Regions from separate parts of the Homo sapiens genome. Here region 1 is linked to region 2. The links come from fine-mapping of genetic effects on gene expression. Tissue or cell type: blood mononuclear cells. Region 2 holds a variant in brackets; the other region holds the start of a gene. All regions are shown on one strand. Distances are from middle to middle.

Region 1 (5,153 bases), 190 kb before region 2:
AGGGATAGCATTAGGAGAAATACCTAATGTAGATGACGGGTTGATGGGTGCAGCATACCTCCATACCACGTGTATACCTATGTAACAAACCTGCACATTCTGTACATGTACCCCAGAACTTAAAGTATATATATATATATATATATATATATATATATATATATATATATATATATATATATAAAGAATGTGGGTACATGTCTAAAGGACACAGGAACCAGCTTGAAAGGGCTCTCACTGGCCTAACCTGGACCAATTTGAGGATCAAAATAAATACTGATAACGAATTTTTATCCCACTGAACAAAAACAGGAATCCACTGAGAAATTATGAATCTGTATTATATAAAAATAAATAACTTGAAAATTTGGTACATGATCTACATAGTTTCAAAGAACCACTTCACAAAATACTTATTATAGAAGGAAAAGAGGTACTTTACAGCAGAGAAGCTCTGCAGATGCCAGTTTATTTAAATGATCAGAATTAACATCACCTGTAATGGAACAAATGGAAATCATGCGCTACCCAACAGGATGCAGTAAGACCGCCTCACTTCTGTGATCGTCCTGCTTAAGAGGCCAAATTTGAATTTAATCACAAAAGAACCTCCGACAAACCCAAGTTGAGTGACATTCTATAACACAACTATCCTGCAATCTTCATGAAACTTTTGTAGTTAATTGTGATCATCTGACCTATTTCTGGATCATAGGATTTAAATGAAAGAAACTGAACTAGGCTTTAGGAAAAGCCATCATTTTTCTAATAAAAAATGAGGCCAGCTTAGCTAACAACGTTTACCCTTTGTCCTTTCTCTTTATTCTTGTTTATCAGATGCCGTGAACAGATGTGAAAGAATATGATACCCTGCTTGTGACTACAAATACTAAAGTCACAGACTGCAACAAAGCGAAAAAGGATAAACTATTTGGCTCCTTCAGCAATTGCACCAAGCCTGGACCAGTTACTTTTAGGCTCCTTGTTACGTTATCCTTTATTTGATTAAGCCATGTGACTGGATTCGCATTAGGTGTGGCCAAATGCAAACCTAGCCAAAATAACCTGCTTTTTCTTTCTTTTCTTTTCTTTTCTTTTTTCTATTTTAACATATCTAGTTCCCCTCTCTAACCCCAACTTTTTTTTGGGCAGTTTTATTTGTATTGCATGGTATTTACAAATTAATTGAGAAATGATTTTTTATGATGTTTTCTTCTTTAAGCACATAGTATACCTCTCCATTCGTTCTAGTCTTTTTGGGGAGCTTATGCAAGATTTTAAAGTTTTCTTCATATAACTTTGCACATTGCTCTAGACCGAATGTTTGTTTCCCCAAAATTCTTATGTTGAAATCTAATCCCCAATGTGCTGGTATATGGAGGTAGGGACTCTGGGAGGTGATTAGGTCATGAGAGCAGCACCCTCATGAATTCCTATAAAAGAAGTTCTAGAGAGATCCCTCTCCCTTTCCGCCATATGAGACACAGCAAAAATACTGCCCTCTAGGAACCAGGACACACCTTCACTAGACAGCAAATAGCCCAACACCTTGATTTTATCCAGCCTCCAGAACTGTAAGACATACTTGTTTGTTATTTATAAGCCATCCATTCTATAATATTTTGTTATAGCAGCCTGAACTGATTAAAACACACACGTTTCTAATATAATCACAGTTTATTTTTATTGAATTGATGCAAAACAGTGAAATGGATGTTTTTCTGAATTCCAAGAGAATCTGAAAAGACGTTGATGCTAGTTATGACAAATATCAGTCAATGTAGTCAGTTGATTAAATATTACAAGGTCGATTAGTAAATTACATTTTAAAATAAAATGAATACTTTCTATTGCATATCAAACAAGTAGGCATTGTGTGTTCAAGATTCAGACTCATAGAATGGTAGTGAATGTAAAAACTCTTGGAAAGCTTCTTGCAAACACACATTAAATTTTATGAAACCTGAAGAGAAAGAGTATTTACCTCAACCTGGCTTATGTTACTTATTTTTAGCGTCTTTAAGGTATCGTTTATAATTAATTCCCCAGCCTTCTTCTTCTTGTAAATGTAAGCTTAGTGTCTTATGTTCTCAAAGCACTTCATCACCTTAGAATGTCTTATTCTTCTGAACTTAAAAGTTTTATGTTTGGGCGATACATGCGTAAAACAAAACAAAGAAATCTCCGCAGAAATAAATAAGTAACTGTCCATTGTAATGAAAAATGCTTGGATGGATAAGTATGAGTAAATAATATGGGGTCAGAGGAAAAAATATAATGTAAACTTCTAACAAGTTAAGCACGGGTAAATTGTGAAGTGCAATGCAAAATTCACATGAGTGTTTCATATATTAAGTAAAATCCACCAAAACAAAACACTGAATCTTCAAGGCAATTCTGTCCTTCCTGCCAGCTGCCACTACCTTTCTGGCAGCCTCCCTTTATCCCATTCCTCCAGCACAGGGAAATGATGCTCTGGCGACAAAGGGTACTTCCGCAGAAAACTTTTGAGAGGTACCAACTTAACTTCCAAGAGCTTGTAACTTACTCCGGTGATTTTAAGACGAAATTGGTGAGAAAGCTGTTAATATAGTAAAAAGTGCATAATAAATATATACGGGTATTAATCCTGCTCACAATCGCACCCAACACCTGAAAGAATTAAACCCTCCAACACCCTTCGGGTCTTTAAAATCTGGGCTGCGGTAATCCGAGCCCTAAGCGACCTCAGATGTGCGCATGCCCTGTTGGTGGAGCCGTGCTCCTCCTTCCTCGGGTCCGGAAGTCCCGGTTTGTTTGTTAAATTACGACCGTCGTAAACTAGAATTTTCTTGCGGCTTCTTAGCTTTACGATGGCAACAAGTATGGCGGCTGCTAGTGGTAGATTTGAAAGTGCGAAGAGTATCGAAGAGCGGAAAGAACAGACCCGGAATGCCAGGGCCGAGGTGTTGCGCCAGGTACCTCTGTTTTGGGGCTTTTGTAGTTATTTATTGTTGTGGGAGTTGAGGGTTCCCGTAAGCTAGCCCACTCACCCCTTCCCTTACCTCGTCAGTACTGAATCTCACCTTAATTTGGGTGAGTTCTCCCTTTGCAATGCCGGTAAACCCTTTTGTAGCTACCGATTTTTTAGATGTTCTGGCAGGTGCCAGTTGCTAATTCTCTTTTCAGGCAGATCTGTCGCTTTTTCTCCAAGTTTCTTTACCTTTTAAGTTACCCATTCTTTACATTTCTATCACTCGGACTGCACACTTTGTAGGTCCCCTGCGGCTTGTAAGGACTCTGCCAGCATGTCTCGCAGCCTCAGTCATTGCTACTGCTGTATCTGAAATGAGATTTTCCTTTTTCGGAAACACATTCAAGTCACACTTGAATAGACTCAGTTTGACATTTCCTCCTCCTGTCTCTATTGGTATCAATTCCAGACTTACTGTAAGCTCTTACCAATCCAAACAAAAGTTAACACCAATCTCAGTATATTTAGCCTGTCACAAAAGATCGCGAAACATTGTATTTCTCACTAAACTTCAGATACATAGAGGTAACATACAAAGAATGGAGAAAGTAAGCTTCTGAATTATCTGACAATCTATTCAATATGTAAGAAGTGTGGCAATGAAAGAGAAAAGTTGCAGTTGGAGAGCAACAGAGAATTCAGTGAGGGTTTTTGTTTTTATTTAAGTTGGAAGAGTTTTAAACAAGTTTAAATGCAAATGAGAAGGAGCCAGCAGAGAAGAGGGAGAGGAGACTCTAAAGGGAAAATGACATAGTTTCAAAATTTGGCAAATAATTTGAGGGTGAAGCAGCCCCATTCTCCTTTAATCTCCAATTTTCTCACCCTGTTCTTTGGAGTCCATCATAAGCCCTGCTCTTTTCTCTGATATCGATTTTTCTGTTTGGTATATAACCATTGTATTCATCTTCTTGCCTACACCAAGAATTATTATATGCACCCAGGGAAAAGCTAGCTGCAGAATGTTGGACTACCTCTCCATGATTTTCCCTTTTCTGGAATATTAACTCTTCTAGTTCTTGTTGCTTCAGCAGTTCTCTGATATAAACCTTTAATAAATTATTTTTATATTTGATTAAAAAAAAAAAGAAAATGACTACAGCCAGGTTTTAAAGGGGAAGAGTGGGCGATTAGTCTTGGGTAGGTGAAATGTTGGTATTGTTTCGTAATTTCAACATATGTAATGTGTGTGTGTGGGTATATATATATTATTCATTCTTTTCTCTTTGGTATTTCCAGCAGTTTTTGGAGGGAGTAAGTTTCGTAAGTTGAGATAAATCTTATAGTAGAGATATGCATAGAATTTGAAAAGGACCAAACTGAGCTTTGGAGTTACAGGGAAAGAAAGAGGGCAGGAACGATTTCCTAGGAAAAACTTGCTTTGTTTGACTATCATTGAAGAATGGATAAAAATTACCAATATGATCCTTTCTTTATACAGAGATGATTCTTCCTGAGGCATTTTTGGGGCTGGGTATTGGGGCTACAGGCATTGCATATTGAAGGCGTGGAGGTCTAACTGTTGCAAAAGTCTTAAGGCAGTAGCCATGGGAATGGTGAAGGGAAAAGGGATTCCAAGTCATATTGAGCTAGGGAGCTTAGAGAGATGGGAGGGCCTGGACTCAGTCCCTGGATTCTCTCTGATTGGTAACTCAAATCACTGGAGATTGGAAATGCAGAAGGAGAGATTTTTGCTTTGTTTTGTTTATTTATTTATTTTTTTATTTTTTTACACTGGAGAAGCAAATCCCTGGCAAGGAATAGACATTCATTCATGAGTGGATATTTTTGTATAAAAATGACAGAGGTTTTTGTTTTCCTTTTTTTGTGAAACCCAGTTGGGTCAATTGCCAGTTTGTCTTTTTTTTTTCTTTGGTTGTAGGCTAAAGCCAATTTTGAAAAAGAAGAAAGGCGTAAAGAACTTAAGCGACTTCGGGGTGAGGATACATGGATGCTACCTGATGTGAATGAGAGAATTGAACAGTTCTCACAGGTGAATACTAACAGGTTTACGTGATGTAAGGATATCTGTCCTTTTTTGCACGTATTCAAGTTAATATTGGATGAATAATTTTATAGAATGTTTTCATAAGTTACAAAATGAATATCACATAGTTGGCATTGCTGAATAGTTTCATCTCTT
Region 2 (5,153 bases):
CTGTTGTAAGGAACGAACACAATTCCTAATTCTAGAGGACAGAAAAGTAAGTCCTGTTAACAGCCTTCAACGTGGAATCTGTAGAGAACTTGTATTATCTCAGGATCTTCTCATTTGAAAATGAAAATGGTCACACCCACCCTTTTCTTATGATGCAAATCACTGGTCAGTATTTTCATTTTCCAGCAGTCTTCAAAGCTGTAATCCAGAAGGACAATAATCTAGATGTAATTACTATATTAAGCATAAATCAGGTTTGTCATGAACTCAAAGGATAAATTCCCTTTGAGTTCATGACAAACCTGATTTATGCTTAATTCTATATTATTATTAAGGGACAAAGTCTAAAGAATCTCCTATGTTTGTGTTTCTAACAATGAAAATGCAATGGTTTTAAATTTACACATTTCATTTCAGCATATTTGTTTGGAGACTCTTGAACCTTAAGTTGACTGGAAGCATACAGTGAATGTGTTCTTATAATTTATTCCATTCCATTTCCTGGTTAGCTATCTAAATTTTTGGCCTTTGGACTTTCACATTAAACACAATAGTCTACACAATGCCGTAACAGCGTTCATCGCCTTTCAAAGCTAAGAATAGACAATAAATAGTCTGGCGTTTTAATTAGACCCTTGCCTTCGTGTGCATTTCAGCTCCATTCTAGCAAAGCTGAATTATAGATGAGCGTTTGATGCGACTTCAAATATCCCCATTTCTTCAATTGTATCACAATAGACAAAACAGAAATGCAGGATGAGAGCAGTTTTGTTCATTTCTTTTCTTAAATCATATCTTGCTATTTTTTCCTTACAGCTATTTCAATTCAATAAATGTTTCCTATTCTTCCAGCAGTGCAATGATGCTTTTCAGTAGAGTACCTGTCCTCTTAATACATAGTTATTTTCTAAAATGTTGCTATTAGAAAATGAGATAATGAGTCCAATTTTCCCAGTCTCTCTGTCTCTCTCTCGTGTCTCTCACACCTGACAGATGGGTGCTCATGGTGCTGTACCTGGGCTGCCCTCCTAGGAACCTGGGACCAGCTGACATAACCCCCTCTCAGAACATGGAGCTGAATAGGAGAATTCACAGCCAGCTGCCTTGGACTAACCTACATCAAACCTGGGCAGATTATCCAATTGGATTATTGGTTCAAGAAGGCTAGACAGAGAGATGAGGATCTAGGAGGGAGATAATAGGTTGAATAAACCCGGGAGATTAGGTGAATGCTTGATCATTTGAAGCAAATGGCAGGGGTCAGATCTAGAAATTACTGAAGCCTTGTTGTGATGCACGTTATATTACAAATACAGGCAAGACTTGATTTTCCTACCCTCAGAAAAGGTCAGATAATGAGATAACTGCAGTCTGGGGTGACATGTTAGAATAAAGGTGTGCACAAGCTATTGTGAAGGAAATTAAATTACCTAAGGAAGATGGGAGCAGGAGGAAGGTCAGGGGCTGTTTAATAAGAAAGGATACATGGGAGCTGAGTCCTGATGGATGAATAATCTTTTCAATCAGCAGGAAAGAAGGGAAAACATTCCAGAGAGGAGCAACCCAGTGCAAAATCACCAAGTTTTCATATAGCAAATGGAGATGACAAGGATTTGGGGGTGGCTGTAAATAAGGTGACAATGAAGGAGATCCAAGAACTGATACTGGCAAGGTGGGAAGGACCCAGTACATAAAGGGACATCTGTTTTATATTCAAAAGTTAGGATTTTATCTGTGTGTAGTGGGAATCATTAAAGATCTAAAGGTAGGGAAGAGAGATAAATTGTTGCTTAGAAAGCCCACATTGACACCCATGTGGAGGATGCCACAGAAGGACCTGACATTAGAGAAGGGAGGTTAGTTTATAGGCATTTGCAATGCTGTCAAGAGATGAAAAAGATCTGGACCAAGATAGTGGCAATAGTAGGTAAGAGACACATTTGAGAAATATTTTGGAGATAGAATTTTGAAAACAGGTCAAGGTTGAGTCCCAGATTTTGGATGGGTGAAGGGAACACAGGAAGAGAAGTGGTTTGAAGTGTGGTCAGGAGGGATGAACCAAATGAATTGGTTTTAGAGTTTTTGAATTTTCAGAGCTCTAAGGAGTTCTGGAGGATATTTCCAAGAGCAGAATGGACCTCAGGAGAGGGGTGATCCTGTAGATAAATAGGAGCATCAACTCACGGTAAGTAGTTGAAACCATAGCCTGGATGAGATAATGGAAGAGATGGTGATAGTGAAAAAAAATAAAGGCCAAGGACAAAGCCATGGAGAACACTATTATTAAAGAGGAGAATGGAGAGGATGCTGTTATGAAAGTCAATCGCGGTGGAAGTTTTAAAACAGTGACATTTAACACTGTCAAAAGAATCTGAGATTAATTGAAAGGTTGAAAAGCATTTGAGAATTTGTTAGATTTGACAGCAGTGGTCTTAGCATTTCAGTGGAGGGTCAGTTTTGGGTTGGGGAGTAAATGAAAGGTCAAGAAGTCAAGATTGTGACTACTCAATTTTTCTAGAGGCTTGACTATGAAGAGAAAACATGATTTATAATAGCTGGATGAGATAGGCAGGTCACGTATTATCTTCATTTAACAGATGATAAAACTGAAGCTCCGAGAGGTTGTAATTTTCCCAAGGTCGACCACTGGTCAGTAACAGAACAAAAACTAAGTCTCTGGTCTTCAGATTCCCAATTCAGTTCTCTTCTACTTGTCCACTGAATATTTGACAGATCCCCTAGTGCAGGGTATAGGATCACAATCAGACAGTATACATGTGACTATGGTATATTTCAC[C/T]CAATGGTTAAAGTATTAAAGTGGGGGTAGGGGAGGGGAAGAATTGTTTTTCCTCTTGGTCTGAACTTGTGAAATGCACACAGGAAAAGTTCATTTTAAGCCTCATTTGGCATGTTTTCTTGGCTGGGTGTGAATATTCCCAGCAGCCAAGTCCTGTTTTCTTCCTTTGCTTTATCCCTGACAGCCTTGTGCTCCTACTGTGATTTCAATTCATGACCCGAACAAGAATGATGAAAAGTAAATTGCATTCTCATGTATATTGCTATTAGAGGCTAATTACGTAGCTGTCTGAAATCCTTTGTCACTTGGACAATATGCATTGACGGAACCTTATTTCCTTGATTTAAAAAAATGCATTTTATTTGGTGTTTTCTTTAGAGATTAAAGCAACTGTTCTTGCAATGATGCACTGGCTGTTGGAGTCAGAACAGCCATCCGCACTAATGAGGATTACATAAACGTCCCTTGCTCTCATGTAAAGATAAACCTCACATCCAGGCGTGAGGAAACTAGGTCTTGTTCCTAACTCAGATACTACAGACTTAGGTCAACAATGCTGGCCTTCTTCACCAAAGACATAGAATCTTTGAATTAGATGCAGTGCTTTGCAGTGCTTGGAGACAAAGTTCACCAGAAAGATGGTATTGATCTTAGAAAAGATTAAGCTAGGCTGGACGTGATGGCTTATGCCTGTAATGCCAGCACTTTGGGAGGCCAAGGCGGGTGGATCACCTGAGGTCAGGAGTTTGAGACCAGCCTGACCAACATGGTGAAACCCCATCTCTACTAAAAATACAAAATTAGCTGGGTGTGGTGGTGCGTGCCTGTAATCCCAGCTACTTGAAAGGCTGAGGCAGGAGAATCACTTGAACCGGGGAGGCGGAGGTTGCAGTGAGCTGAGATCACGTCACTGCACTCCAGCCTGGGCAACAAGAGAGAAACCCTGTCTCAAAAAAAAAATAAAATAAAAAAGAAAAGATTAAGCTAAAGAGTACATTCACGGCTGGGCGTGGTGGCTCATGCCTGTAATCCCAGCACTTTGGGAGGCCGAGGTGGGCGGATCACCTGAGGTCAGGAGTTCGAGACTAGCCTCAACATGGAGAAACCCTGTCTCTACTAAAAATACAAAATTAGCCAGGCGTGGTGGTGCATGCCTGTAATCCCAGCTACTTGGGAGGCTGAGGCAGGAGAATTGCTTGGGAATACCAGCTACTTGGGAGGCTGAGGTTGCGGTGAGCCAAGATCATGCCATTGCACTCCAGCCTGGGCAACAAGAGCGAAACTCCGTCTCAAAAAAAAAAAAAAAAAAAAAAGTGTGCATTCACATATCTTATGAATTAGCCTGGCTCCCAAATGGACTTTTTGTCATAAATACTCAAACACAAATCTTTATTTCTCAGGCAACCCATTTGCCTTGTCTTGTGAGAAGTAGCCAATTAAAAATGGGCATTTTAGGCCGGGCACAGTGGCTCACTCCTGTAATCCCAGCACTTTGGGAGGCCAAGGCAGGTGGATCACCTGAGGTCAGGTGTTCGAGACCAGCCTGTCCCAAATAGTGAAACTCCATCTCTACTAAAAGTACAAAAAAAACTAGCTGAGCATGGTGGCAGGTGCCTGTAATCCCAGCTACTTGGGAGGCTGAGGCAGAAGAATCACTTGAACCTGGGAGGTGGAGGTTGCAGTGAGCTGAGATCGAGCCATTGTACTCCAGCCTGGACAACAAGAGTGAAACTCCATCTCAAAAAAAAAAGACAGGACTTTTTTTGGAACAGATGCTAACCTTCTTAAGGGTAAGAACCTGTCATACTTTTTTTGGTAATGATTAAAATTATTAATAAATTATATACAATTAAAACAATTATCAAATTCATATGCACACATATTACACATATTTATATGTAATAATTGTAATCCTATAGATTAACAAATGAGTTAATATTTATTATTTGTTTTGCATATTGTCATGCCCAGTAAATAATTTCTGATTGGTTTCATTCCATTTGAGATTCATTAGTAAAATAACTGCAATTTGTAAGTTGAACTAATTACCACTCAATCAAAGAAGCAGTACTGACAAGCGTCAGAGAAATCTGCCTTAAGGAGTCTTTGGCTGAAGAGCTATGTTGAATATATGACTAGAAAAAACAACACAAAGATGAGCGTTTTACTTCAATATTTTTTATGGTTTTTTTTTTTTTTTGCCTGTCAGTTGGATTTACTATCCGGTTATGGCTGATCACAGTGGGAGACATAGGTGCAAATAAAATAGATATTTATGAGCTTTGTTTATTTTATGAGGTTATTAAATTCTTTTATAAAATAAGAACTTAGCAGTGCTAAGATTTTTTTTCTTTCA

Evidence for each region. PIP is the estimated chance that this variant, and not a neighbour inherited with it, causes the effect.
Region 1: CWF19L2 starts here. The variant in region 2 is fine-mapped to the expression of CWF19L2 in blood mononuclear cells (TOPMed, PIP above 0.99). The same link has a PIP of 0.9 or more in testis.

The regions. Positions count from the first base shown.
Region 1 is chr11:107,455,516-107,460,668 of GRCh38, reverse strand. It overlaps CWF19L2 (CWF19 like cell cycle control factor 2), which reads left to right and starts at 2,844. Exons shown (of 18, transcript NM_152434.3): 1 at 2,844-2,957; 2 at 4,893-5,003. The coding sequence starts at 2,853. RefSeq lists an enhancer at 2,560-3,065.
Region 2 is chr11:107,266,996-107,272,148 of GRCh38, reverse strand. All of the region lies in intron 1 of LOC105369477 (a long non-coding RNA gene), which reads left to right. Among named protein-coding and RNA genes, the nearest start is that of CWF19L2, 190 kb to the left of the region's middle. The variant C/T (reference allele first, on the strand shown) is at 2,798.